2 linked regions of the Homo sapiens genome follow. The protein of the gene in region 2 interacts with the protein of the main gene of each other region in a pairwise test. Each region holds a gene or a part of one and is shown on either strand. Other genes may lie near its edges.

The links.
Region 1: the proteins of C6orf58 (region 2) and ANXA1 interact in binary tests that used the Homo sapiens proteins (3 or more experiments, as listed by UniProt).

What each region holds. Positions count from the first base shown.
Region 1 is NC_000009.12:73,146,872-73,162,722, reverse strand, and holds the start of ANXA1 (annexin A1), read right to left. Parts: upstream 10,859-15,851; 5' UTR 10,799-10,858; exon of another isoform or gene 8,400-10,798; coding exon of another isoform or gene 8,381-8,399; intron 4,202-8,380; coding exon of another isoform or gene 4,188-4,201; coding exon 4,122-4,187; intron 4,029-4,121; coding exon 3,920-4,028; intron 3,395-3,919; coding exon 3,300-3,394; intron 2,461-3,299; coding exon 2,347-2,460; intron 1,921-2,346; coding exon 1,830-1,920; intron 1-1,829. UniProt on the Homo sapiens protein: Plays important roles in the innate immune response as effector of glucocorticoid-mediated responses and regulator of the inflammatory process. Has anti-inflammatory activity.
Region 2 is NC_000006.12:127,575,911-127,591,761, reverse strand, and holds the start of C6orf58 (protein LEG1 homolog precursor), read right to left. Parts: upstream 14,589-15,851; 5' UTR 14,577-14,588; coding exon 14,276-14,576; intron 13,077-14,275; coding exon 12,990-13,076; intron 11,498-12,989; coding exon 11,313-11,497; intron 10,581-11,312; coding exon 10,480-10,580; intron 1,676-10,479; coding exon 1,437-1,675; intron 220-1,436; coding exon 140-219; 3' UTR 1-139. UniProt on the Homo sapiens protein: May be involved in early liver development.

The sequences.
Region 1 (15,851 bases), on a different chromosome or scaffold from region 2:
CTGACATCTCTAAGTTGGTTGAAAATTCACAGTGCCACAGTGTTCAATGACTTATGGAACATGTTGCAAAATATTATCATTTTTAAATAAGAAGAGAAAAATTAAAGCAGGTAAATTTTTGGATCATTGAATTTATTTCATATGAAGCAATGGGAGCAATTTAGATAATACTGTGATTGAAAACTCACAGTCATAAAGCTTTCGTTAAGAATAAATTGTATAGGTATACATTAGTAATTAATTCTGAAATACAACATGGCAGAATTTAAGCAATAGAATGAATAAAATAATTGTTTAAAAGAACAAAATGAGGTACTTGCTTGAATGCAAATTATTTATTTAGTTTAAAAACTATAAATGTCTTATAAGTAATGCAGTTTGATGATTTATGTGTGTGTAAACACTTCTGCTTAACTACATAAAATAATACTGTAATAGGAAAAAATAATTGAATTTATAATTGACTAGTGCTATGGTTTTCATATTGTTTGTTTGGCCCTGCCAAGTCTCATGTTGCAATTTATTCTCCACTGTTGAAGGTGGGGCCTGTTGGGAGATGTTTGGATGATGGGGGCAGATCCCTCATGAATGGCTCGGAGTGAGTTCTCATTCATAGTTTCTTTAAGAACTGGCTGTTGAAAAGAGCCTGGCACCTCCTTTTCTCTCTCTCCCTCTCTGCACACATCTGCTTCTGTCTGCTTTCTGCCATGAGTAGAAGTAGTATGAGGCCCTCATCAAAAGCAGACGCTGGTCCCATACTACTTGTACAGTATTTCCTTTCTTTTTACATTACTTGGTCTCAGATATTTCTTTATAGCAACACAAACGGACTAAAACAACTTGAAACTGGGCAATGTAATAAACTATCACTGGCCTATATCTTGGCCATATGAAAAATATATAAACACTTATTTTTATAAACTATGTTTTATCAAACAAAAATAATCATCATTATTACCACTGACACATGGATCTAACATAAACATTGGTAATTAAATAAGAATTGCAGAAAATGAGGTTTAAAAGCTTCCTTATTTTTATTCTTTTATTAAATTCCTCTGAAAATGATATGCAAAAGCTATTGTATTCTCCATGCTTGGTATGAGAATCAAGCAGAAAGATCTTCTATATGCCATATATTGCATTGGGAAAGCCAAAAAGCCAGCAGCTCAGGGAAATGAGAGTAGGAAAATGGTAAGAGACTTGCAATTACCCTCTTTTCAGTGTTGAGCACATCATTTAAATGAGATGCTTCACTGGAGAGATAAAATAAGCTAAGACTAGTCTTTTATTCTGTGAATTTAACTAGAGATAAAGTGAGTCTCTTATGTTCATAACGATAAAGTTAAGGTTTCCAACAGAGAATTATAAGCACCTAATTCTTTACTTTTTCAAGGACAAATGAAAAACATTTTGTTAGGAGATTTTTTTGTTATTATATATTCTTTTCAAAAAAAATGACCTTGGGACATTTTTATAAAATACATTCCAGAATAATAGAAAAGTGTTTTTCAGAAATTTTTAAAAATTCAATGCTCTGAATTGAGGTTTCCATTATAATCGTATGTGGCCATTTATCCTAGAGGAACATTTTCTATTAAAACGCAAGCTTGATGCGGATTGGGACACCATCTCCCTTGTCAGCAACCTAGCAACTCAAGCGTTGCCTGGTAACAGCATTTAATAGACATGTGCCAAACAATAAAGAAACATTTTGATATGTGGAGATTCCAAAGCTGCCATAATTACCATAGACAGTCAATTTTAAGAAAGTATATTAGATTTCCTTTTCAAATAAGGCGTTTGGACTGTTGGACATTACAACTTACCCTCTCTGTAGACCCTGTTAATGTCTCTGATTTCTTTGTTAGTTCTTGATGCCAAAATCTCAATTAGAGTATCTTCATCAGTTCCAAGGCCCTAAATTTGAAGAGAAGAAAAGGATAAATGTAGAAAAAAATCTTCATGCAAGAGGATCAATGAGTTTTTGGTGTTCCAAAATTTGTTTGACTCTGTCATTTAGTAAATTTCACCCACAACATTTAATAATTACAATAAGCTCTATTACATTGCCCTAAAACAAAACAAGTTTATCATCAATATTTTGGGTAAAAATAAAAATGCAAATATATGACTCATATAGTGACATGACATGGAAGGTGTTAGTGCCAACATTTCTGTTTTCATTTATATATTAATTCCTTCATTGAGGTATTAATTTATTTATTCTTCAAACTCCCACTGATTGACAGGTACTATACTAGATTTTGAAAATAACATAAGCATAAGTGACTTGCCCAATACATCCTCTTGAGGAAAGGAGTTTGCTCAAATTGGGCGATTTACCTTCATGGCAGCACGAAGTTCATCAGCATCAAATTGCGCTGGAGTTTTTAGCAGAGCTAAAACAACCTCCTCAAGGTGACCTGTAAGGGCTTTCTTCAGTGTTTCATCCAGGGGCTACAAAAAAAAAGATTAGAATCAGGACTTCCAATAAGTAACATGCTAGGTTAAAAAATGTGATATTACCTGACTTTAGGTCATCGTACAACTCATCCCTAAACCCAACCATCTTTTAGAGCTTCTTCCCTTCACATACAAAGTGTACCAAATATTTTGAAACATTATCTTACCCTTCCAGATCTAGAGGGATTAAAATAAAATTTACTGAATTCATCAATAACTTCTTAAAGCATAGGGTTAGTAATCTTATACACAGGGGAGAAATCACAAAGATCAAAACACAGAGGACTGTGTGCTAACAGAAAACAGAAGTAAAATTACTTTTAAAATAATATATTCATGTTTCCAATCTTTGAGGTTTGTACTTCTCAAATAACAAGCAGTATAATCAGATACTGAAATTATATAGTTTTCTAATTTCATTGCTTTAGAAAACTACTCATATTTGGTATAAAAGACATAAGGCTTATTTTTAAAGTAGAATTATATATAAAATTTAGGCATTAAACAGTTCAGTTTAAATATTAGTACATTTCAATCAGACCATATTCTTTATTGACAGCAGCAATCTCGATGTTTACGTTCAAATTAAAAATTTGTCCCCAGAGCACCACATCTGCAAACAATATACACCAAGATGACTAATGTATAAAAATAGGAAATTTGATAAAATTGATTAAATTGCAACAAAGTGGATAAACACTGCAATCCCAATCATAGATGTAATGAGAAAACAGTGGTTAGAACCTTAAAGAACTAGGTAACTGTGCTTCCGAATCCATGGTTAAGTATAACTATGCTGAAATTAAATATCTAAATTTACCACTCTAACTTACCTTTCCTGTTTCCTGGAGATATGCTGCTTTGATCTGTTGACGCTGTGCATTGTTTCGCTTAGTTAGAATGTCAATGATGGTTGCTTCATCCACACCTGGAAATAAAGGGCCAACAGCCTTTAACACCAATTTTCTTCATCATCAATTGACATAAAATAATTCATTACTGAGATGCTCCAAAAGAACTTCTTAACAAATTAAGAAATATAAATTATATATCAGCCTAAAAAATCGATGCTATACTACATATCAAGGAAGCACTTGGGAGAATGACATTTCATTCGAGTGAGAAAGGAAGAGACAATTAACTTTTCCTGGCCCTCAGTGTTGCAGTGTTTGATACTAGTTGCAACTCTATATGTGAACAGAGCTTTTAATTTCAGCATGGAATTTCTGCTAGAAATGAGCCAGTAATATCTGCTGTAACAATAGAGATTCCACTGATGTGAACACAATTTCCTCAGTGTTAAGTAAATAATTACATCTTCGTTTGGCAAAGAAATGTTTTTATCTTCAAAATGAAACAGATTCTTTCCATTGCACATGTCTGTTTTTTGACAGTCATTCAAATAGCCATTCTGAAATGTCCAGGAGGGAACTGTTTTGAGGAAACACGTTACCTTTAACCATTATGGCCTTATGCAAGGCAGCGACATCCGAGGATGGATTGAAGGTAGGATAGGGGCTCACCGCTGATCCGGGACCACCTTTGGATGACTTCACAGTTTGCTAAGAATGAGAGAGAAATAAATTAATGGCCATTTACTTATATTCGTTTTTATTTCAATATTGTAATCATAATTTTATTATCACTCTACTTACAACATATTCCTGCTCTTCATTTTCAATAAACCAGGCCTGCTTGAGGAATTCTGATACCATTGCCATTTTTGAAAAAGTGTCTGGAAAGAAAACAGTTAGATGCTTTTACAAAACAAATGCACCACACACAACCTCTCCTTCCTCACCTCTTACATACATAAGAGTTAGCATTAGAGAGTAGCCTTGCGCTTACTTTCCAGGATCAATTACACTTAGGAGCATAACAAAATGTAAGACGTAATTTTTTTTAAAGGAAGCTTTTATACTTAAAATGAAACCATACCCTCCTCTCTGAAATTGAACTCTTTCTTGGCATATTCAGTTCTAAATTTTAGAGATCAGACAACTACTACAAGTAAGCACACAGGCTGAAGAGAGGAGTTTGTGGTTCACTACATTGTTCTAAATTTGTAGACCACCCACCATATGCCAAGCACTAAGAGTACAAAAACATTGAAATATCATCTTAAGTACCCTCAGGACTTAAAGCTAGTGTGTGCTCTCCATAGGAAAACATAAGGGCTAAAGAAACTTCTTAGAGTAGGCCCTGGCTGACCCAAGCCTCTCTTGAAATGAGTCAAGATTAACCTGGCAGAAAAGTTAAAGAAGAAGCTTGTCATATTTGGGAAGCAGAAGAAAGTTTGCTGGAGCGAGAAATGTTGGCAGAAGCTGAAACAAGAAGCTTCAATGTGTCCACAAAGCTTTGGGAAAACATTAATGGGTTTCTTTTTGTTTGTTTGTTTTTTTAAAGCAGCATGGTTTCATTTATGTTTCCGAAAGACCATTCATCCTTTATCATGGAGAATGGCTAAGAGATAGACAAGATGGAGGATTAGAATACTATTTAGTAGACCATTAGACCATCTATGTGGAATTAATGAGAGCCTGTACAAAAGTAATGGCTAGATGAAAAGCTTAATGATTGCTTTTTTTTTTTTTTTTTTTTTTGAGATGGAGTCTTTCTCTGTCGCCCAGGCTGGAGTGCAGTGGTGAAATCTCGACTCACTGCAACCTCCGTCTCCTGGGTTCAAGCAATTCTCCTGCCTCAGCCTCCTGAGTAGCTGGGATTACAGGCACCAGCCACCACGCCCGGCTAATTTTTGTATTTTTAGTAGAGACAGGTTTTCACCATGTTGGCTAGGCTGATTTTGAACTCATGACCCCAAGTGATCTGCCCGCCTCGGCCTCCCAAAGTGCTGGAATTACAGGTGTGAGCTACCACTCCCAGCCAATGATTACATTTATAAGGTAAAATAACTTGTGCCAATCTGTACAAGTGAATTCAGATTTAAAATTTTAATTGTAAAAAGATATCCAGGTGATATTTCTCCCTGAATAATTTAGTTTCCTTTTCTATTTCTTGATATAAAAGTACTCAGCATTGAAGTAATTGCTATCTTCACATTTCTTCCTATTTGAGCTGTCTAAATAGTAGTCCTACATATTTTCCCACCCAACACAAAAAACCCAGAAAAGAATTATTTTATACTGGATTTTTTTGTTGTAGCAGGAAGCCTAGAGGTGCAATTGTAACATGCATGTTCTTTTGGCAAACTCTATCTTAAAGGAAATTTCTTGAATTGCTATCATGACTTGGCAATATTTTTATTTAATGAGACATATATTTTTAAGATCTTAAGTATATTGAAAATTAATGTGTTCTCTGTTTTGGCCACACACACACAAAATGCCATCACAGATCCTTTTAGTCTGGGGATGTTTTTCAGAGGCCTTGCTCAAGGTCTACACTGATCTGTCTATCTACACCATTCTGTTTCACCCCTCTAGAGACTACTCTCATGAATGTTTGTGAGAGAGGTTGGGAGGACAATCTTGGCAGTTTTAAATTCTTGATATGAAGATAAATGACTCATGAGGCATAAACTGATTCCATAAACTGATTCCTCAACAGCATGTTCAGACAAACTCTTTCCATTTTCACCTGCTAAAAAGTAACTGGAGTTGCAAGTAATAACACTGAATGCATGAAGAAAATAATATCCAAAGCAGAAATCATCCCCACTTAATTCGCATGGGATTGCTCTTATTACTATTCTGTCATCTGTGAGAAGAACCAATACTTTTTCCATTCATTTAAAGCAGCCTGTTTCCTAAATATAATTGATAGACTTAAAATTGCTTCCTGATAAAGTAACAACCCGCAATTTTGCACAAGGTTTTAGTTCCCATTACAGTCTAGTTTCATGCAATTGCGGTTGCCACATGGAGTTTCATATTCCACCTTCTTAATTGGCACACCCAATACTTTAAAAGCAATTCTAGCAGCTTCAGGCACTCAAAATTTCCATTTTCATCATTTCATCCAAGGCTTTGATAAGGAAGAATCATCAAAATGAGTGTTAAAATTCATCACTTGGCAAAGTACTACTCCATCACTTATAAAAACATGTTTTTATTATTTATTTATTTTATTTATTTATTTATTTATTTATATTATTTATTATTATTATTTATTTATTATTATTATTATTATTATTCCATTCTTTTCAATTAGCAAATAAAAACTTCAAAAGAAAGCAAAAGAAAGACTAAAGATATTGTCCAGTCTAATATTAAAGGTGTCTCTGACAACTTCAAAATAAACGTTATAAAAACTTTACTGTACTGTTTTTTTTTTACTTCTAAAAAATACTTGAATAATGTCCATTTAAAAAAAAAGCCAGAGAAAGCCCAGGAAAAGGTATATTAATTACATAACACAAGATAACAAAAATAAGTTGTTTAAGTCACTTATTTGAAAGAGAGAGCATCCCTAGAGGAGACAGCTTTGTGATTTGTATCTTCTAAGTTCCTACATTCTAGCCTGAAGTATTTGGATAGACTAAAAGCATAATCTAGGAAAGAAAAGCAACCAATAGAGAATTTTCTTCAAGAAATCAATTAGAGAAAAACGGAATCTGAATTCAGCCAAATTCACCACCAGCTCTTAGCAAAGATTAAAGACAGGAGCATCAAGGCAGGATATAAGAAATTGCTCTAAAGGAAACAGATTTTATCACATACAGCTGGTTAAGGGCTCAAAGCCAACTGCACGTATTAACTGAACTTCTGAATAATTATAATACAACTAACAAATACCAAATATATATTTTTTTATATATTGGCCAAATTCTATCCTTAAGCCGTTCTGACTCTTCAATACCTACACTCTGCATGAAAACCTGCCTAAGCCAATGAGTTCATGAAAGGTTTTCTTTTTTCTATCTTTTTGTTTGTAGTGTATAAAGCTTGCAATAGATTTTAAAGAGCCTGTTCTATCAACTTATAGATTTCAACTAACTCAATACAGATTTCAACTAACCAAAGATAAGCTCTAAAACTAAGTTTATTTCAGTACTTAGCATGAGCTCATTGACGGTGAAATTGGCCATTTATACATAGGCAAATCTATAAGGAAATTAACAATATTTCACATTTCTTCTAATTAATGGTCTTTTTGTGAACATGCACTGCCTACTAATGTCAGCTTATCTATGATTTGAATGTATAGCTTTCTAAAGCGTAGCAATTTTTTTGCATATTTATGTGTCCTAAGAGAGTCCCCCCGCTTCATTTTTCCATCTCTCAGCCTCATGAAAGGCTACCTCTATCTAGAATTTGTGACAGAGGAAGCTGAGTTTTGTGGTTGATTGTATCTTCCTGGTTACAATCTAGAACTATCAGAGTTTTGCAATGATAGTAACAGCAATGACTAACCCTTGCTTGGAATAATAGCCTTTAATCATTATCCTCAGTTTCTATCTGGGAAAACTGAGTGCTATTTTCAAGCAGTCTTCCTGCTAGTAGTGGCAAGAATGGAGACATAAATCCATCCCTTTTGATTCCAAAGTGTTATATATTTTGGCTGTGCATGGTGGCTCACACCTGCAATCCCAGCAATTTAGGAGGCCAAGGTGGGCAGATTACTTGAGGCCAGGAGTTCAAGACCAGCCTGGCCAGCATGGCGAAACCCCGTCTCTACCAAAAGTACAAAAATCAGCCAGGCATGGTGGTGTGCACCTGTAGTCCCATCTACTCAGAAGGCTGAGGCAGGAGAATCACTTGAACCCAGGAAGAGGCGGAGGCTGCAGTGAGCCGAGATTGTACCACTACACTCCATCCTGGGCGACATAACAAGACTCTGTCGGGAAGAAAGAAAGAAAAAGAAAAGAAAAGAAAAAAGAAAAGAAAGAGAAGGGAGGGAGGGAATTAGTGACCAAAAAGAAAATGACATGATCAGTGTTCTTTTAATCACTCACACCTGAGAATCAAATTCATTAACAGTCAACTTGCGCAGACCGTAGCAGGTTTCACCCCAGCCTTAGGGAGTTTATTTTTAAATGCACGGCCTTGTGCATAGTTTTTCCTCGAATATGTATTTCACAAGTCCTTCCCACACCTTCCCTGGTGAGAGAAAGCAATTAAGACTACACAATGGCATGACTTACAGAAAGCAATTTATGAAAGGTAGCCTCACTAATGTTTTGCTTCCAGGCTTTTCGATAGGGTGTTCTTCTTGCCTGGAATGCTTGTTCCTCCTCCACATTCACTTCCCTTTGCCTAACTAATTGCTACTTCTAAGTGACTCATCAGCATTGATCTCATCACGTTCTTCAGAAACCCTTCATTAGTTCCTCAGCACTGGATTCGGTGACCTTCCATGCTCTCCCAAAGCATCCTGACTTCACCCCTACACCAGCCCCACCTTTCTGTATTATCACTTTCCATTGGCTTGTTTATATTCCCCAGGAGCAGGCCATGAGGCCCGTGCTAACATACAAATAATAATATTCATTATGTATGTACTTCCAATCCCTAGCAAAATGCCTGGAATTTAGGATGTTAATAAGTATTATTGAATGAATATCATGTATCATTGCTAATATTTTAAAAAACATATCTACACTAATTTAATGAACATTTTCTACCCACAACTATAGGATATAAAATACAAATTGAAGTATACTGGTTCTTGATTATCTGGCGATCTGACCTCAAGAAAAACATTTAGCTTCTCCAGAGGGTCTTCGTTTATAAAATAAGAATGTTGAAGTAATTATCATCTAAGATCCATTTACAGCTCTGAAGTGCCAATCTTAAATATTACTTCAAGTAGATGAAGATGAAGAAAATTAGCATAATGAAGGAAGGCATTATATAAATTGGATTGTTCTGAGCTTCCTGATGAAATTCTGTCCAATTTTAAAGGAAAAGGAAATAGTTGACTTCAAAAAACTGTTTATAGTTTATCATTGAAAAATAATAGGTCTGCTGGTTTACCTCTGATTTGAAATGTCGTAAATTAATAGGTCTAGAGAGAGCTAACGTCATATTCAGAAATCAACCTTTGCAGACCTTCTGGTTGAAAAAGTATTTAATAAGCATGAAACTCTGGCTGGTTCCTTAATAATATTATTATTAACTATTTTGTCAACATCTGTTAAATGTTGGCTATGTGCTGGATGTGGTTGAGCCTGGAGCTAGGGTGTTACTGTCACTTTTGGGGAAGAGGCCATTTCAGAATTATGAAACCAACATTTTACCACATTTGAGTCATTTGCAATGTGCATTCTCTTACAGCTACCAAAATACTCCTGTGGAAAGAGGGCAACATTGCTTTCTCAAAGTTTTTACAATCTTTTAGATATAACCAAGGCAAGAAAAATTCCATCCTTGTTAATTAGCTAGCAGTGAACATAAGAAATCAGAACATTTAATAAATATTTAAAATGAACGAACAGAAAAATTCTTGAAGGAACATGTTTAAGAAAAAAATAGCCAGATACATGATTTGTAATCTCACTTTTACAAATATATCCAACACTAGTAAATACTCTTCTTTAGTTTTGCTTTGTGCTTTTCTAAGGAGTTTTATGGCCATTAGCTCATGCAACAATCAAGTGGAATAGCTGTTGGAGGGCCTCACTGACATTCCCCTAGGATAATGTATCTGACACTACCCAGAAAGTATTTCCCTTCTTTTTAGGTTTTCCAGCCAGCACTTGAAAAGACTGTATATGACACAGAGCCTACAAGAAAAGGAATGTGGCCACACCCTCTTTAAATGAAAAAAGTAATAAGCGGACCTTCTTATTTTAAATAGCATAAGCAAATATAACATATATTTTTAAATGTTTATTACAAAGAGCATGATTAGCACTTTGAGGTCTGAATCTATCTTGTTTTCCTTACAAAAGAAGAAAATAAATTATGAAAGTCCTACTATTTTGAAACAGTTCCCTGCAGCCCACTCCTATCACTTTTGTTCTTGCCCCCAAAAAGCAGCCCCCATCACGATTTCTCTGTAAAACACACAGCTCTTGGGAAGAAATATTTCAAGGGGAAGGAAAGGAAAAACACATTCTTTTAAGGCTACCAGAGGGAAAGCACATTCTTCCCTTCTTTCTCATGGTAACTTACCAAGAGTACAATGAGCCAGTATTAAGCAAACTTATCTTATTTTTACTTGTATTTGTTAACTAAGTAGAACAAAAATATTGTAATTTGTGATTCCTAAAATATAAATATCCAATGTAATTCTACAGAAAGATTTATGAATGACTTATCATGTTAAATGCAACTAACCATAAATCCTGTAGAAGCAGTAACATTTAACATAGTGATGAGAAAAGTTTTCAAAACAACCAAAACTAACTAAAAGGAAAACCAAGACTTACCTTTATCTCTACCTTCTTGCAAAGAACTAAAGAGAAATTCTTCTCTGAAGATTTCACACTGGCAGTGGAGACTTGGGCTTCTGATTTTATAGGATTTTAAAGGAAGCCACACCTAGCAACCAGAAGTTAGTAATTGGCTGCCTTCTGTTTGAAGTACATGGCTCAGCTATGTCCAAAAACAAAGTGAAACAAGTCTTGCAAAACTACTCACTAAACCAATTCAACTGGCATTACAAAGGAAAAGAAATGGAAGGGCTGATTTTTCCTCCCTCTTTATTTTGCACTTTTATTTCCAGATGGGATATTTATTTTGCACTTTTATTTTCAGAGTATACATCTGCCCCAATCCTAATACCAGTGATTGGCACACTTTTGTAGTTAAATAGGTTGTAGACTAAAAAGTATGTTACCTTCAAAACTAAACAAACCAACAAACAAAATATTACATTTGAATTCCACCTCCATCACTTATTATTCTGTGACTTTAGGGACATACTTAATTTTTCTGAACCTGTTTTTACTTTTGTTTTGTTGTCTTTTTCCCCCGCTTTTTGTGGAGAATGGGGTCTCGTTATATTGCCCAGGCAGGTCTCAAACTCCTGGGCTCAGGCTATCCTCCTGCCTCTGTCTCCCTAAGAGTTGGAATCACAGGCGTGAGCCACCATGCCTAGCTGTTTTTACTTTTGTATATAGGAGCATTATCTAAGTTGTCTACCCACTAGAATTCTTGTGACAATGGAGAAATAACATATATTTGTAAATTTTAACATTACACAGTGCCGAATAATTTTCTATTTATATTTTTCTTGCCTTAAAAAATAAACGACTTTTGTTCCTAGATATAGCTTGTTGTTATAAATAAGAAATATAGAAGTAATAAAGTTCCAGATTGGCTCAAAATTTTGAACAAAGGTAATGCCAAAAATTTGATCATTATGACATTCAATAAAAGCATTGACATCAGAAGGCCTATCTACATTAATTCTTTTAAATAGAGTCAGTTACATAGAACTATATATATAAACTGTAATATAGATCAGTTATATATACATTTTGATACACATCTTTGACATTGTAGACTAGTTGAACACCAAAACAAGGAACTAGACCTATAAAATGAAAGGATTAATGGAGCAGCAACTATTACAGAACACATTCCATAAGAAATTTCCCACCCAATGGAGGAAAATTGGTTCTGGTAACTTCCATAGTGGTTCATTTTCATTCTTCTTTAAACCCTACAAAGTATTATATGATGTTTCCATTAAAGTGCACAGGTGTAAAATCTCACAGCATTATGGCTCAATTTATGCTGCATTTAGTGGTTTGTTCTTTTTCCTCTTTTCCTCATAGATATTTCACATAAAAAACATGAAGTTTAGGAAGTTAATGAAAATACTTTCTAAAGATTGGCAGTATTTTATAATACATTCTAAGTGCTCGATGCCAATATCAATGAAGTCAACATATCCTGAAGTAGGATGATCATCTAATCTAAATATTTAAGAAAATGTCAATATATGTTTTTACTATCATATGTGTAAGTTGAAAATTAATTAGTTACCTGCTAACAAGTTAAGTTAATTGATATTATTGCAAATTGATCTTGACAGATGTAGACTAACTTTCTAATACCATATTTATGTCATCAGGTGAGAAGGAATAAGATGATTATACAAAATCTGGTTTTCTTTTTTTCTTTAATTTGCGTTTGTATTCCTAACTCTGGTAATGGAACTATTGGAACATTCCTGCACAGTGATGCTCTTGTGAAATGAAGAAAAAATTCCACTTACTTTTTATAAAATATAACAACCTAGAAAACATGTATAGTCTCATTTTGCTTTGTTGCTGCTATTACCAGTGCCATAAACTGAATGGAATTATTTTATATGTTTGGATTTGTAATACATAGGCAAACCTAAAATAGCAACAATAAATATGATAATTGTAGCAGAATTAAGAAAAAAAAAGTGAAAAGAATGTTTTTCCAAAATTAACTTCCAGCTGTAACACTAAAGGCAAGTGAAACTCCCAAACATAACACAAAAAGAAAGCCACTAATCATGTAGGTATATTGCTGTGAATAATCTGTCAGAATCTTTTTCTCCGCATAATAATAATGTCGAGTAGATTTATGGAAATAAAAGAACAAGTAAAATATGTTATCATTAACAGTGAGGGGATAATCATGGGTTAAATGCTTTCTGTGGGTGAAATGCCACATACTCCAGAGAAATGACTCACCACTCTTGCTGTTTCTAGAAGATGATGATTCATCGGCTCCACTTACTTTACAAACAGAGAAAATAAAGAAAGAGAAGGAAAGAAAAAAGACAGTTAAAATCAATCTCTATATGTTACGTTTTTCACAGCATGTTTATTTTCACTCATTTGGTTTAGAATCTGATAGTGAAGAGGAAACAAAACAAAACAAGGAGAGGAAATATGGAGTCTCTCACATACATCTCATTGTGCATAAGACTCTTGCAAAATATCTGATCTTAGTAAGCTGTCCCCTCATCCTTTACATTTAACTCTATCTAAGCATTACTTGTTATATGGAAGAAAGAGTATATTCTGAATGATCAAGAACAGCATTTCACAGATATTCCAAAATCTCCCCACAGCTTCCTCATACCCCCTATCCACAGCCAACAAAAATCATTATTTTAGTGTGTGTTTCTCATGTGTCCCCAGGTCAAAGCATTTTGAGGGCTAACATTCTAAATGTTTTCCCTTTGCCTCTAAACATGGCAAATAATTATCACACACACACTGAGTTATTGAGATTATTATTATTATTATTCCTCAGTTATTCACATGAATTAAAGACAGAATTTTTTTTCAAATTTTACTCTTTCAGGTTAATGAAGTAGTCATGTGGGTAGCTAGAGCCAAAGGGAGGTACCTTTGTTGGACTTCACTTAGGGAAAAAGATCTTACCTCCCTGCCTCTCTATATTTCCTTTTGTGGGTGGAAAATCTTAGAGAAGATAAAAACTCAAATTTGGTGGTGGCTTAGTATCTATTACTGTGTGACTTAGGAAAAGTCAGCGAATGACTTGGTGATTCAACTAGTATACTTCCAACATCAGGATCATGCTAGGATTAGTAATTTTGTATTGCACAAGTTATTTTGTTTAATCCCTGAGTATAGTATCCATATCCCTCTCTATATTATTCGAAAGTAAGAGAATAAGACCTTGTCACATTCGCTATAATAACAAATTTTACTTCAATAATTTTCAAGAAGTTTTGCAGAAGGAAAATGAAGATATGTGTTAAGGTCAAAAGGTCAAACTCTGCTTTCTAGGTTCCAGCTGTTTTAAAATAGTCTGGCAGTTTCTTACAAAGATAAACAGAGTCTTACAATGCAATCCAGCAATTGTGCTCCTAGATATTTACCCAAATGAGTTAGGAAACATGTTTACACAAAAACCTGCACATGTATGCTTATAGCAGTTTATTCATAATTACCAGAAATTGGAAGCAGCTGAGATATTTTTCAAGAGGTAAGTGAATACATGGACTATAGTACGTTTATGTAATGGACTATTACTCAATGATAAAAAGAAATGCTTTTAAACCAGGAAAAGAAATGAAGGAATCATAAATGAGTATCGCTAAGTAAAGGAAGACAGTATGAAAAGGCTATGTCTGTTTCATTCCAATGAGATGCATTCTGGAGAAGGCAAACTATAGAGAAAGTAAAAAGATCAATGGTTGCCAGGAGTTGGTGGCAGGGAGGAGTAATAAATAAGAGACTTTTAGGGAAGTGGGCTGGGCATGGTGGCTCACACCTGTAATCCCAGCACTTTGGGAGGCCGAGGCGGCGGATCATCAGGTCAGGAGTTCAAGACCAGCCTGACCAACATGATGAAACCCCATCTACTAAAATACAAAAAAAAATTAGCTGGGCGTGGTGGTGCACGCCTGTGGTCCCAGCTACTCAGAAGGCTGAGGCAGGAGAATCACTTGAACCTGGGAAGCAGAGGTTAAAGTGAGCCAAGATTGCCCCATTGTATTCCAGCCTAGGCAACAGAGCGAGACTATGTCTCAAAAAAAAAAAAAAAAAAAAGAGATTTTTAGGGAAGTGAAACTATTCTGTATGATACTGTAATGGTGTATGCATACATTATGGATTTGGCAAAACACATAGAAATGTATAACATGAAGAGTAGGCCCTAATGTAAACTATGGCAATTAGCTAATAATAATGTATCAATATTGGTTCACCAATATAACAAATGGACCACATCAATCCAAAATATTAGTAACAGGGGAAACTAAGAGCAGCGGGAAATTGAGTATATGAGAATTCTCTGTACTTTCTGCTCAATTTTTCTGTAAACCTAAAATTTCTCTAAAAACTAGAGTCTATTATGAAAAAAAGGAACTTCATTTGATTATATACTTTCTAAGATATACCAGGACCATATAATTTCTAATATAATAATTCAAAAATTCTTATGTAATCAGAACACAAAAAATACAGCAAGTCTTCACATAATCATTGCCAACTCCATGGATTTATGACACGAACCAAAGATTAATATCCTTAAATTTAATAATGACTTTTTTTCAATTTCTATTTTAACTCAATAGGTTTAAAAAGTGATTTAAAACAATTCTTTAAACTAGCATAGTTAAACAAAAACTGGATCTTTATACTATCTTAAAAAATAAAAAAACATGGATCTGGATGGATCTGGAATTAAAATGGGAGTAAATATATAAAACAAACAATAAACTTTACAAGATATTCTGTAAATATCTTGTAGCTAAATTTGTAATGAAAGTTTTCCAGACCAAGCCACAATAAATGTTTGCTTTGCATTGGTTGGGGTGATTTTGGTTAACTTTATCATAAATAGATTATTATCCAATAGAAAAATGAAATTTTCTTTCAAAGAGAAACTTGATAAATCCTAAATCTCATTTTCTCATTTACAAGTCAAATATGGTTATACTTTGTTAAAAGTAACTTGCAAAAGATCACTATTCAGGATAATCTATTCTGAGAATAACATTTATAATCTCTGTGGTGGGAG
Region 2 (15,851 bases):
ATAAGCATAAATCAAAAATATCAGAAAGAATAAACTACATGGTCATGATGACATTAATTTTTTGAAATTACTGATTGTCAAGTTCGAGTTTTTCATTTTTAATTCATTAATCATTTCCTGAAGTTTGAAGTTAAATGTTTCAGGAGTTATTTCCATAACTTCTAGAGCTAGATTCCGAATGATCTCTATATACATTAGATTTTTCTGTACAAAGATAACCTGTAAAAGATACAAAATGATTACATGTAAACTCTTGCAAATTTTTTAAAGTACCTTTTGGCAATATATGGCTCATAATTTTATTTCATTTCCTTTCTACTAATTTAATGGTAAAATCATAAATTATACAAAGAAAAGTAAGCATGGCATGTCATTCATAGAATTATTGGCAATACCATTTGGCAATACCTGACTTACCAACTTTACTTCACGTTCTTTCTATGAATTTGGTGATAAAATAATAAATTATGCAAGAAAAATATATATAAAATGTCATTGTTATATTATTGGCAATAACTAATAATAACACTATATATCTATTAAACAGAATAAATTGGATCAACTCATTTTTGGGAAAAAGCTCCAAGAAAAATTTTCACAGAATGAAGAAGACTTGGTCTGCTACTGATTGTGTGAAGGGAAGCTGCCTACTGACAGAGAATGCTGCACTAGAACCAAAGGAAAAACTTCAATTGTATGAAGTCTATAAAGTGTTTGGATGTTTTTGTTACTCTAACTGATGCAGAGGTTTTTTTTAAACATAGGTTTAATTTATTCATGTTTAATTTACTCCATTTTTATCTTTCAGACTTGATGTTTTTGCTTTGAAAAACGTTTTAAATTTGGCTCAATGCTTCAGTTCATGTATGGCAAATGGGAATGATATAGTCACTTTCAAACTGGTAGATAAAGAACCCTCTGTTTTTTTTACCTCACTAGAAGATCCAGCATTTGAAGGGCTAGAATAAAACCCTTCTTCCATGACTAATAGTATTGGATCAAGGGAACTCAAGTAAGCCAAATTGCTAGTAATTTCATTAATCATGGCAGGTTTTCTTTTGAAATGTCTTCATTTTCTTTAAATATAAGAGCAAAGTAGAAAGTTTTTTTTTTTAAATGATCTGATGAGCAAAATAAGGAATATATATCGGTATGTAGAACAAAACAAAAGTGTTTCAGTTGGTTTGCCAACTTCAAGTTTCAACATGGTCTCCAGATGAAAGGACAGACCATGAGTAAGAAGATTAAAATGTGTGCTCATTAAATGGTTCTATATATCAAGAGTGATTATTGCTAAAGAAATAGAATGGATACCCACAGGGAAATCTTTATTTTTGGAGTGCTGTAATGTTTATATCACTGATTTAATTATTATTTCTTCCTCTATTTGTTCAACATAATACTGATTTTTAAAAGTATCCTTTTAAGGTTCTTACCTATAGATTTATCCACATTGTCAAGCATATTTAGAAGAACCAGGACTACATTCTGAAAAGCAGTAAAGTCACTGATGAAAGGGGCTACATCAGTATTAAGAAGAATTCGTGGTGGCATGCCCTTCTGGAACTTATATGATCTAATCAAGGTTGTAGGAAAGAGGACTGCAGCTAAATGATCCACAGCCAGTACCCAACTTCTCTCAAAATGCGCTTCTGCTTTAGAATAATAATCATATCTAAAAGACAAACGGAAAAGTATTTAATTATAATTAGTCACCTCAGAAGTTCAAGCTCATTGCCTTCAGAAAATATTGGTTCTTGCCAACAAACTAAATTCATAATTTTATAATTTAGAAAATAGGCTTGATATTGTGATGACTTTATTCCATCCCTCAGGAGGTGTGAAGTTGGCTCATTAAAATTCTAAATCTAGGAAGAATCATCTCACTAATTGTTTACATTTTACATTGCATTTTATCTTCTTTAATTCAGCACATTATACTTGAATACCACCTAATAACCAAAAGTAAGGCATTTTTAAATCATACTCTTTGCCAATGTAGAGATAAATATCAAAGGTCTAAAGCAAAATTTTTGCTAGACTCAAATATCCTTTGTGAAACTGTTGATTTCTTAAAGCCAGGGATCCCAGAAACATTGAGATTTCTAGAAAAATAATATCTAGATCTAAATTGTAAATAATTGGCATTCTTCTACCACAGGAAGCCTCAGGTAGAAAAAAAGCCTCTGTAATTGTTAGAAAAGACTCTGTAATTATTAGAAAAGCCTCTGTAACTATTTGTCCCCATAATAGGTGAGAAAGTTTAGTTTCTCCTAAGAAATGGGGACAAATAATTACAATGGAAAGATTAAAGTTATATTCAGTAGTTTTAGAACTATAAAAGTCATGTCTTCTGTTTCTATGAGCTGTCTAAGCATGCTAAACAACTTGTAGTTTTGCAAACAGACTTGTTCTCCCTGAGACATTGTGTACTCACCATGTGGTTCAGCAGGTACATTCTGTTTCAAGTCTCATCATAGATATTACCTTCTTCACAAAGGTGAAGGGCATTCCAGCCCACCTGAGGTGGAATCTACCACTTTCTTCTCTTCTATATTCCCATAACACTATATCATCCACATATTTGAAGGATTTTTTTCTCTAGTTATATTCTATTATCATGTCTAGAAATTCGATTATCTGATTTTATTTTGACAGCAACATAGAAAAGATACATTAAACAGAAGGTACTTGCATTATGCTTGTTGAGATTAAATAAACTATAACATAACCCAGATAATACCTGTTATCTGTTTGATTCCTATGCTTGTGGGATCCTCCCTGCCCTATACTTGGAAGTGGTAGGGTGGGCAGAGTTGGATTGTCGATGACAGAAGTGTTTGGTCGGGATTCAATGCCCCTTAATACATTACAGTCACCTACCAAGCAAAGATGAAAGGAAATATGAAGTCATAAAGATTTTGAGCAAGGGCCACAGAGGTCTAGTAACAATGTACTAAACAAATTGGAAGTAAGTCAGAATCACTGGGAGAGAAGAGATGAGTGCACCAGTTCAATACACAGAAATCACAAGAGCAGTGAAGAAATTCAATAATAAACTCTTCAAATGCATCAGTTGAATGATTTGTTGGTCAGTTCACCTAATGATCAGATAGAATGTGGTCACCAAAGAAAGAATTAAAGTACACTTGAAATGATTCACATAAAGTTGAAACACAGGCATACATAAGTCAGCCAATCTGAGGATACAGAGCCACAGAGTTTTATTTGAGTATATGCAAGCTACAAAATATACAGTACTGTCTCAAGTAAATACTCCTTAATATATATTTGCCTAAAGAAAGTAACTTGATGAGCTTTTAGGGTTGTTTCACAGCATGCAATAGATTGTAACCATGGCCCCAGTTGTTCTCCAATCCCTACAATTCTGTCTTCTGCTATGTAACTTTCATTACCAGTTCTTCCTAAATTAAGTGATAGGCAGAAATTCCCACTCCTGACTCAGTCATGTAACTTGACTTAAAAAATACAATATTAACGATTTTGACATAGCATAAACTTGAAATACATTTTCACAATTTGGTTATTCTTTCTTGCAATTCTGCCATCATTATGGAAAACAACCAGGCTTGTCTGATGTAGAATGAGACGGGGAACAGAGCTGAGCTTCCCCAGTCATCCCTGCTGGAGCCAATCAAAATCAGCCAACATGAGAGTGAACCCAGGAAAGATCAGCAGAGCAGCATATCTAAACCCCAGACATCTGAGCAATAAACACAGTTGTACAACACTGAGGTTTAGTGATTGTTGATTGGGCTGCTTTCTTTCAAACAAAGCTAACTTAACTCAGAGCCTCACACATAGTAAATTGCAGGGCCCTGTTTTAAACCCTGTCAATTTGCCTTTAAAATCCATGTTCTTTACTACTGCTTTTTGTCATGGTGATAATAGTTACTTTATATTGAATATTTCTCATATGCCAGCAGTACGTTAAGCATAACCTATGGATTTCTTAATTAATCCTCAAAATTGCCCTATGTGGCATGTACTATTGTTATTGCTATTTTAAAAATAAGAAAATTGAGTTTCTCCTTGTTTGAACTCCTAGGTCAAATGAGCCAGGATTTAAAACTCAGGTCTGTGGAACTTCAAAGCAAAACATCTTAATTTGTACATTATTACTTCATTTCAAGGAACAATCATTAGCCTTGAATCTTGTAATATGAATTCATAGACCTTGACAAAGCAGAGACCTCATAAACAGGTAGATTAACAAATCAGAGCACATAAGCAGGTATTTGAAATCTTCCAAAATAATCATATTAAAAGATTTACCTTTTGCCAATATAAGCCTTTGAAAATATTCAAATTGCCTGAGGAACTATTATTAAACTTTCAGTGAGGTGAATTAATAGAAAACATGTATTTTTAGCTTTCTTAATAGTGCACCTATATATAAATTTATCCATAACACAATATTTTATTATATTCTGAACTGATCCCAATTAAAGAGACAATAGAAGGGAATTTTTAGGTAAAAGAGTTTTTTAGTAAAAATGCTGTTTTTAACAAATACTTGTACTTTTGCAACCTAACAAATCTCCATAAAAATGACACAAGAAATAAAATCAGAACACGTGGGGAACAACAAGATTTTGGAAGCTGAAAATTGAAAAGAACTAGTTGAAAAGATTTAATAGAATCAAGAAAATTAAATTCTAAGTAAACAGAGAGGAAAATAGAAAAATAATGCTGATATAATTTGTAGAATTCTCCTCGATTTAAGTCTTAGTAATACCTTCTGGGTAAAAGGAGATTGCTAAAATCAGGGAGATTAAAAGACTTTAAAGAAGCAATCATATACAAAGATTTCCTTCCAGATTTCAAATAGTAGGTAACTGCCACTCCTTGCCCTGGAAAGGGTAGAACAGAGGGTCCTTGAACTGTGTGAACTAAACATGGTTGAAGGTAGGAACACCACCTTGGAAACAGGATATAAGTGTAAATGATATACTGAATGCAAAGACACTCTCCCCTTGCTTCTTCCTTCTCTCTTGACTTCAATAATACTAACAGCCAGGCCTTCACTTCTGAAGCAGGTGACTGAAAGAGTCTCTTCTGGAAACTGGGTGAGCTCAAGAGAAAAGACTTGAAGTTATTGGAACCATAGTGTTGAGACAGCCAAATGCCTAGGCAGATAAAAAGGGGTCCCCAGAGATCCTCCAACCTTCCCCACAAGTGTTTACCTCAGATGCTTTTGTGCAGATGAGGAAACATGCCCAGGGCCTTGTCTGAGCATGCCCGCATGCTCACTGGCAGCATGGGGTGGAGCCACAGGGAATTTGCACCTTACACAGGGGAGGAGCCTGCTCTCTTCAGCTCGAGTGGTGGCCTGTTGTTCAAACTGTGAGGTAGGAAACCTGCTAGCAGGACTCTCTTGGTTTGCTGAGAATTATTTTTCCTTTTTCCTTTTTGCCCCATAAATTCCATTCCCCTCACCCTTCGAAGCGTCTGTGTGCCTGACTTTTCCTGTCAGTGTGCCTGACTGAAAGTCTGTGTGCCTGACTTTTCCTTTGCTTTTTGGGACTGTTAATAAACATATTTTGTGCCACACTGACAAATTTACCATGAGAAAACACGTGCTTCTAGAAAGTATAATTCATAGATTTATCAGTCTACAGATTACTGGCACAACAGTTCACAATTGCTTGTTTCCTAGTGTTCACTGGAAATTTAGGTTAATATGAGTTAAGATTCTTAATTATATATAATTGAAATCACTAGAAATAAGGAAAACAAAGCTATATGCAAGTAGACAGGTAAAATGTGCTTTTGGTAAGAAAAGCTATAATATATGAGGATATTTCGTTTTGTTCAAGAAACAGAAGAGCAAATTTTATCCGGGTATGGAATGACAGGTTGTTCCAAAATGAGAAGAGAGGAAGTATAGGACAAAAACTGAATGTATAAGAAAGTTATAAAAGGTGTGTGAAAGATAAATCTTGTGAAAAAAAATTTTGTGTTGATCAAGTTGGCTAAAATTAGAAGAGAATTATTTATACGTTTTTCTAAAAATCAAGCATTAATATCAAAGGTACACTGATGCAAAACTAGAATTTGTTTCCCTGTGTTAAGCCAAGGTTTTCTTGGAGTATTAGTCTGTTCTTAGTATGACACTGTGAAAAGTTTTTCTTTACCCTTGAAGTAATTGTCCTACAAAACAAAGATTCCACATTTTACTAAGATAATTTCCTGTGCTTCATGTTGTCTTCATTAGGTTTTTTGATCATTTAAACAACTGAGTCCTCTCTATAAAAGATCGAAGGTTTTTCTATAACTATGTAATTTTTCTGCATTTGCCTTTAAAGTCTTTAAATTATCACTCTGATTAAAATGGATGACTATTATTTCCAAGTGATCTGTGATCCTATTTTGATCAAGTATTTTAAACCTTTGATATTTTTGGCAAGCTTCCAAAAAATCAAATTCTAAATCAAGTATTTTTATTGACCTCAAATTAATTTTGGGGCTTTGCAGATGGGCCTTTGGGACATCTCAAAAGGATATCCGTCCTTACAAAAAGAGAGATGTTAAAGTAATTGGGCCTATTTGATAAATAATATGGAAAGCATTGTCAAATAATAAGTAATGTTAAACCTTCTTTAAGTTGTATTTGTATGGATGTGTTATTAATATATGTTCCAGAAATTTTATGAAATTCCTAGAAATCTGATCATCCCATTGGACCGAATGAGAGTTCCCAGAACTGTTAGGAAGAGATTGATTGATTCATAAAACTTCTAACCCAACATCAAGTAGAACAAGAATTAATTGATTACTAAGAAAATGCTTTGGCAGATTTTCATGCTATGTCAGCCAGAACTGAAATTGTTTAGATAAGCAGTTTGAACAAATATCATGAGGTTGACTCAAGTCAAATTACCTATGATAACCTATTTAATAAGCAAGCTATTGACCTGATTTGGAAATACAAAACTGACTTTTTTTTTTTTTTTTGGAGATGGAGTCTCACTCTGTCACCCAGTCCCCAATCTCTGGAGTGCAGTGGTGCAATCTCAGCTCACTGCAACCTCTGCCTCCCGGGTTCAAGCAATTCTTCTGCCTCAGCCTCCCAAGTAGCTGGTACTACAGGCCTGCAACACCACGCCTGGCTAATTTCTGTATTTTTACTAGAGACGGGGTTTCCCATATTGGCCAGGCTGGTCTTGAACTCCTGACCTCGTGATCTGCCTGCATTGGCATCCCAAAGTGCTGGGTGTGCCAGCCAAAACTGACATTTAAAAAAATATAAATTCAATGTTAAATATGGACTCATGGAAAGCACAGATGGCTTCCTAGTCCTTCCTGGGTCCTAAAAGCTTCCATTATTAAAAACTCTATACTCATCATGGAAGAGATAAAATAATCCAAACTATGAGGAAAATATTGGTGGAGTGACTATTCTGAAATGCCTTATCACTAATATTTGGTTTGTTAAACTGATAATGCTGGTAAGGCAATAAAAACCTCAAGTGATATATTTTTGGCACATGCTGGATCATTTGAACACCTACAGACATATTTAATTCAATTGCCACCTTCAGTGCATATTTTCTGGTTTTATAAGTGCTTTTCTATGCGAGAAGGCAAATGCTATAACAATAGTGAAAAGGTTATTAGAAAATGTCCTTATAGGGCATTCCTGGAAACATCTCTAGCAATATAGGCACTCATTTTATCAGAAAAGTTGTAAAACAGTTTAAAAAGGTATTACAAACAAAATGGCATTAGAAAAAGTTAATAGAATTTGTTGGATTGCATTGGTCAAAGGTCCTACTGATTGACAGCAATCAAATCCACTCCTATAGGAAAAGACAGATTGACTCTTTATGAAATAGTTTTTGGAAGGACTATGTCTCTAATAATAAAATCTCATATATCTCATGTTCTTCTAAACTCTGATATGACTCAAAATTATGAGGCTTCAATGCATTTTGCCAAAGCATATTTTCACCAGATAAAAGAAGCCCTTTGCAGCCCACCAGCTGATAACAACCAGATTTTCCATGTTCTAGAACCTAGAGATCAGTTCTTTTGGAAACGACACCAAAGAAAGACTGCCTTTGAACTCCATCAGAAGGTACCACACCAAGCTCTTTTTTGCAGCACAACTTCAGGGATTTGAGTCTTGGATCCACATTTCTCAACTCAAGAGAGCCCCTCCAGACCCCTGGGACTGTACACCCATCGGAGATCTCCAGGTAAAGCTTACTAGGAACGTTTTTTTTCCCCAGAAGAAGATGGCATCCTTGATGTAGACAGCTTTCCCAAGATCATGAATAAAGTCTTTTCTCCTCTGTCAACATGAAGTCTTTTCTCCTTTTCCTTTTTGGCCCATGTTTCTTTTCTGTCTACACATGGCAATATAATGTGATAATGAAGATTTCATACTCAATTACTTCTGCATGGAACTTAACTGAGTATTGCATATGTCATGTTAAACCTAAATCCTCACATGATCTTAGAGATACTCTGGTTCACCCTGTAAGAAATTTCACTGATATTCCATGTGCAATATCTAGTTCTTTCTAAACAGCTAGACTTTTAGATTCAAATATTCAGATTGCCTGTTTAAATCTAACAGTAGGCAAAACCTATAATGAGAGTATGGTAATTAAATTAAGCCAGAATTGAATTTGAAAAACAAAAGGAAGATAATTCGACGTTTGTAGGCAAATTTATAACCCTAATCCTTTAGTTGCTAGTATCTTCTAACCATACAATGATTAAAAAATGAGGCCTTAGACAAATATTACTAATGCTGACTCATAATGCTGACTCATAACGCACAAGGCATCTCACACAGGAGACTATCTGTAGGGTTCTTCCAGAATATATTTTTATTTGTGGAGGATTTAACAACCAACCATATATGTGGGCAAATCCATGTCTCAATAATTACAAAATAAGGAGCCACCGACAATTAAGGGATTCCAAGAGTACTCCTGTCACTCCATAACTAATTGGAAACTGGATATTGGTCTGCAACTCTTAATTTGAACTATGGAATAAAGAGGAATTTACCAGCAGGTATGAATTCTTCTTAATGGGTATTGTTGGGTAAAAAATTCCTTCCCTGGCTTTGTATAAATGTAAAGGAGGTTATGCTTAGAAATACGTCTCATACATTAGTTACTACAGCTGACTCTACTGCAAAGGCTACAATTGGCCAGCAAACTTCTTTAGATTTTCTTGCTAAAGGCATATTAGGTAACCGGATTGCTTTGGACTACCTTTAGGGAGGAATATGTGCGCTAGCTAACACTCCCTCCTGTACTTAAGTAAATTCATCAGGTAGGGTAGAAGCTCAGTTGTAAGAAATCAACAAACAAGCCAATTGGTTAAAACAAGTAGATTTTTCTTCTGGCTTATTATTTATATATTTGATTTATGTTGGTTCAATTCATTGAGGTTCCTTCTGTCTCTTAGTATCAGCCTCCTGACAGCCATCATAATAGTTTCCCTGGTGCACCTTAACCTCCCCAGAGTCTTAAATCCTCTTATGCAGCTATTCATTCTATGTCAAATGGTCTCATTAAAATTAGAATAATGAAAACATAAAGAGAACATAAATAATCAGTCAACTGTCCTGATTTGTGAACTGTGAATTCCATACTGATACCAAATAAGTCAATGATGAAAGTGACAGAGAGTGATGTCAATGCCCAAGGTTTTGGTCAACCTCTCAAAATTGAGAGGCAGACCAAAAGGTGGGGAATTGTTAAATTAAGTTTGGCCTAAAATTGCCACGATATGTAGCAAACTGCAACTTAATGTAGTTTGTAAACAAACTGCAACCAAACTTAAGAGTATTTTCTTGTAACAAATATGGGTCTCAGCCAATCATGGCAGCTGAGCTTCAGCCAATCACAGGCTGCCAACTGATCAAACCATGCCTATACAAGGCAAATTTCTCACCACACTATGTCCAAATGAGGCAAATCTGAGCTGTAACCAATCAAGGTGTTTCCATATGTCACTTTCTTTTTCTGTCTATAAATACTGCCTGCCCACATCACTGGGTGAAGCTCTCTGAACCTCTACTGGTTCAGGATGATGCTGATTAATGAATCATTCATTGCTTAAGTGAATTCTGCTACATTTATCTTATCTATAGTTTTTCTTGTAACAGTGTCTATGATTAAATAATAAAGGTCATCTACATATTTATATTATATTTTGTTTTCTACATTTAGGAAAATGTATTGTCTGTTGCTTTTTTTTTTGTTTTTTCATGCAAGGCTTTTTTTTCTCAAAATTTTCCCCTTCTTCATAAAACACTTTTTTAAGCCTGATCATGTTAAAATATTTACACATCCTCACTATAATCTCCAATGGTTAGGCTTATTATTTAATATAAAGATTGAAAAACACTCTAGAAGAAGAAGAAAAATATATAAATAATGCCCAAAATTATTTATCATATTAAATAGAGATACTTTAAAGATTCATTCTTACCTGTCTTCAAAACTTTTGATATTATCTGCCAAGGTTGAAGTGTGTGCAGCCCATAAGTACTTCAACAGATCATCAAACTTACTAAAAGGTGACTGCAAATACTAAGGTAAAGAGGTCAAATTTATTAATATTTGAGCAACTATAAAATCCTTCTCCCTGAAATTTAGTCATGTTCAGATATATTTTAGCAATATTGTACATAAAAGAAGAATTTTATTTCTAAGAAAAAGTATGTATATGGCCTTAATGCCTAACACTCTTTAAATAACACAAAAATATTCATTAGTTTTAATAATAGCATATGCATCTATAAGTATTGAACTTCAAGTATTTTCAGAGTTTATATTTTATACCGATCAGGCCTTTATTTTTTCCTGTTAACACTGTTAAAATTACCATAAAATCGTGAGTAACAAAAATATCTTCTTAAAATGTTTCATTAGATCTAAACTAATGCAATAATCTACTAAAGTACTAGTAAATATATCTTTTCTTCATTGATTTTAGTCAAATTTCTTCCAATATCCTAGTGGACATGAAGACTCAATTAATCAGAATAGCTTATTAATCATTCAGCAAAATATCCTGTATGCTCACCATTTTTGTATAATGTATTTGAGGCAAGAAGAATGGATAGATTTATGTTAATGCTGTATTGAGGCAGTAGGTGTTAATGACTCATAACACTCTACAATATACTATTAATATATCATGCATAGCAATTTACATCTGCATACTAAGGAAAATATTATGTAATGCACAAAAAAATCCTAGACGAAATTATATGACAAAATAAACTCTCTTCCTATCTCGTAAGAGTATAAAGAAGGAACCTGGTAAAAGGTGTTCCACTTGTTCATTGTCTCAGGGAAGGATGAACGACAGCTAGAAACATCATAACAAAACTTCCTCTCATTCTTGGGTGGGGGCAAAAGCCTGACTTGGTCTGATGATATCCCCATTACACCAGAATCAACCGCAGCAAGAAAGGGTAATGAAGACAGAAAATAATTCAAATCTGTAAGAACAAAAGATTTACTATTACTACAAGCACTAACAAATTTCAAAGAGGATATTTTTAAGGAAGGCATAAGTCATAAAAAAATTCACAGACCCAGAAACATTATAAAAGCTAACCATTAGGAAAAAAATATTGAACAAAAATCCCCCTAAGGATCAAATATATAACTTTGATTGCATTTCTGTTAATAACCTTATAGTCATAAATATATAACATATTGGCTAAAGTAGTTGACTATATTTTAAAACAAAAAGTAATTTTAATGGATATCATAATATTCATTTTTTCAAAGCATTAAGTAAGAATGGAAGAAAGCTATCAACTTTTCCACAAAATGGTACAAAACCTCTCATTACGGTTTTATTGTGAATTGTACTTGTATTTTTCTCTAAAATATTTTAACATGATTATAGCTTTGGTAAATGAATGTTTTCTATTTTATACACATAAGTTTAATTTGTAATCATGATATCACTAAATTTTTATCTTATTTTATCCTTTAAAGCACAAATTTTGGGTAAGTTTTGACAATAGACCATTAGACTGACAATCAAACATGACTATTTTCACATTTTAAAAAATTTTACCTATATATCACCTATTCCAGCAGACTCAGACATTTTCATTAGTTGGATATTAGGCTTATACTGATTTCCACTAGAAATCAGTGATGTAGAATATTTCATCCTAGACAGGCATTTGTGAATGGAATCCTATGCCACAGTGTAGCAGGCTAATCCTCCAAACTACTAAACCAATCTAAGAATAACAAACTCTGAATTCTAGATCTGTGGCCACTACTATTCGCGAGTCTTTTAAAAGAACTAGGGGTAGTAAGTGGAAAATGCTTAAGGATACATATGATGTGTGTTGCCCTGAAAAAGTGAAATTTAATGTGGTCGTGTTTCTAACTATTGAGAAATACCTCTAAGGATTTGTGGTATAAATTGTTTTCATTACTAAAGCATAAAATTAAATGAAAGAATTAGAAAATACCTTCTGGTTATTTTAGCATTAAGTATATGATTAAAGCCTGAGATTACTGATTGGTATAATGAATTGCAGTAGGTATTAATCTCTGGCATGTTTATGGGTTTCAATATTAACCACATCTGGTCTGAGCAAAATGAAAAAGCATCATTTGTCTTGATGTCTCACTTCTCATCGTTCCTTATTCTGGAGATTCTTTGTCATCAGTTGGACCTCCCACCTAACTACCAGAGCTGGCCCCTCAGAGGCCACTGCTTTTGCAGAACCTTGTTTTCGTCCTTCTGTGAAAAGCTGGATATGTCCTAAGGAATCATTATTGACATTGTGGCTCTTAAATCCCTTAAAGTGACCTAAAGGCCATAAGGTACACGGTGAAATAGATTCCTTTTTAAAATAGGAACAGGATTATTTTAGTTCTGTCTCTGTCCCTAAGATTTTAGGTTTGAATGCTTTCTTTCAGGAAAGGTTAATATCTATTTTGCCACTTAAACGAACATACCAGCCCACCAACTGTCCACAGAGATGCACATATGATCTCCAGATTCATAGCCACAGTTTGTCCTTCGGGTTGGATCAGCTAATCTGCCTGGAGGAGAGAGGATGCACAGTCGTATTTATTATACGCATTTTGAAACTGGCTGTAACTATTGCTTAACCACATAGATTTTGTTTGTAGATACAAAAGCATTTATTTCTGAATGATATGTGTTTGTATTCCCATCATTCTTTTTTTATCTTTTATTTTTTAGTTTCTAATTTCTTTCCTTTTCCTTAACAACACAGTTTTCTACTTTTGAGTTATAGGTCCTAAATATTATTTACTTTTGTAAGGATACTCTCTTCTATTTCCTCCTCTACCTTCTAATCGAAACTATGAAGCAATATGCATACAGATGAAAAGAGATGGTCGAGAGTCAAAACAAACCCCTGCTCTACCACTTACTAGCTTGACTTTATCTAAATAACCTCTAATGCCTTAGTTTTCTCATCTATGACATGGGGATAATAATATTAACTACATTATAAGGTTGTGATGTGAGGTGAGAAAAAGCACCAAAGGTGTTTCACCTGTAATATGCATTATGTAAATATTAGAAAATAATCATTGTTTTTCTTCCAAATGAAATTGCTCTTTTCTTAACCTCTCTCTCACACACAATAATTTCTTTATTGGCTGTGTCATCAGCAGGGAGTGGGCAACAGGCACCACTCTTTCTCATGAGCTTCTATCAACCAGAACAAAAGTATCTTTCAATTCATGTATATTTTATCCCAAAATGTAACTTCTGTCTATACACTGTAAGGTACCTTATTTCCAAGAGGAAGCAAACATTTTACAGAGAAAGATCTTCATGAACAATGTGATGCTTCTTTATAACCTCATATCATAATTAGAACTTCAAGAAATTCAAACTAATTGGACATCACTTTGTATATCCCCTTGACTGTTTTGTTCATCTCATTGCTTAGAAAGGAGTGTGGCACTTAGTAGAACTTCAACAAATATTTGTGAAATGCTCAATAGATGAGATGTGATGTCTTTTCACAGTTGATAACTATGTCTTATGCCTCATTGAAGCTTCTAATAATAACACACAACCCACAAAAGAAGGATTTGTGGATAAGGAGAAGGATAGGTAGAAAAACAATGATTATAAGGGAAAAGAGAACAAGATAAAGAATCAATTTTTAAAAACATAGTAGGGTATATACAGAGTCCAATTTCCCAAATACTTCATAGGTCTATCGGTAGATCATTACAATGAAAACAAGAGTCATTCTTACCTGTCCTATATTGCCAGCCATACTGCAGAGGCAACCCCCATAAAATATTCTGTTCATTATCTGGTGCAAATTTTGCAAAATACCTGGCTGTCTGATTCAATATGATTTTATACATCCCCATTCTCTCAAGGTATACCCAGGGATTAATAATGTACATGCTGTTCTCCACCCTGTAGTCACTGAGCTGACCAGGACTCTCCTTCCACAGAGGGGGCTCTGTCTCTGAGAGATTGGAAGTCCCTGCTAAGGAAGCAGAAAAGGAACCAACTAGTACACAAACCCAGGAAGGAAGAAAAGCCATTGTGCCAGAGCTGGGGATTGCGATCGTAGCAGGGCTTTTATTGGAGAATGGAAGAGGAAGTCATGATATTTGCTAACCTCACAGCATATCAACACTTTGCTTTTTTGTTTTCCTGGATAGGGTGAAAATGTAGAAGAAATTGATGTATTAGCTAACATTTAGGACAATTAAATTTCCCAGACTCTTCAGCGTCAGAATACTGTGTCAGAACCTAAATACAAGGTTAGGCTTGTTTATAATGTATTAGATAAAACTATTTATCAACAAAAACCTTCCAGAAGTTTCCCAGGCTGCATTGTGATTACAAAATACATCACAAATGGCTTTAGAATGCTTCCCTCTAATAAAAATACTTTAACATATTTCATGGAAAATATTAAATAGCTGGAGATGGAAATACTAGGATTTATAATAATCTTCAAATGTGTACTAAAAATATGTGTGATCCAGTTGTAATACAATGTTCTGCTTCAAGAAAGAAGCTTAAAGAATATCTAATTAGCTCAATTCAATAATGAAAGTCAGCCTGCTGGAACAAAACCTGCTAGTTAATTCTTAATATCTATTTTTCATTCTTTATTAGTAAAAGAATCGTAGAATTTTAGCTGGGAATATGGTCTCCCAGAATTAAGGCTAAATTTCCAATTTGCTTTACACAAGCAACCATGTGACTAAGTGTGGACCACAGAGACATAAATAGAAATAGTATCCACAATTTCTGGAACATGTCCTAAAATGAAGGGCACATGTCAATTCCTCTTCCCTTCCTCCATGTTGTGGCTTGGATTATTGATGTGATGATTGAAATTCAATTCTGACCCCTAAACGCAAGGCACTATCTTAGGGATGACAGAATGCAAAGCTGGAGGTGGCTTGAGTCCCAGAGGGCTGTGGAGCCATGAGATGTCCTTGAATTCCTATATCTGAGTTTTACCTGAGCAAGAAACACCCCACTCTCTTGTTTCAACCACTGTTATTGAAGTTTTATTCACACATAGTAAAAATTCTTGCCTTATTAATAGGTAATGCATCTGAAAATCTCAATTATTTACACAATTAGATGCATATGCTTCATAGTAGGTCACTGGTACTGCTTGTTCCTGGCATGGTCCACATTAAACATCCTACAGCATGATTCCACTCTTTTTTCCTGTCATATTATTTACCCAATAGCCATTTGATAATTAATAAATTTTCCAGATATATTAATATAAAAGGGAATGGTAGGAATTGCTACTATAGATCAAGAATGCAATCATTCTGGAAATTTTAAAA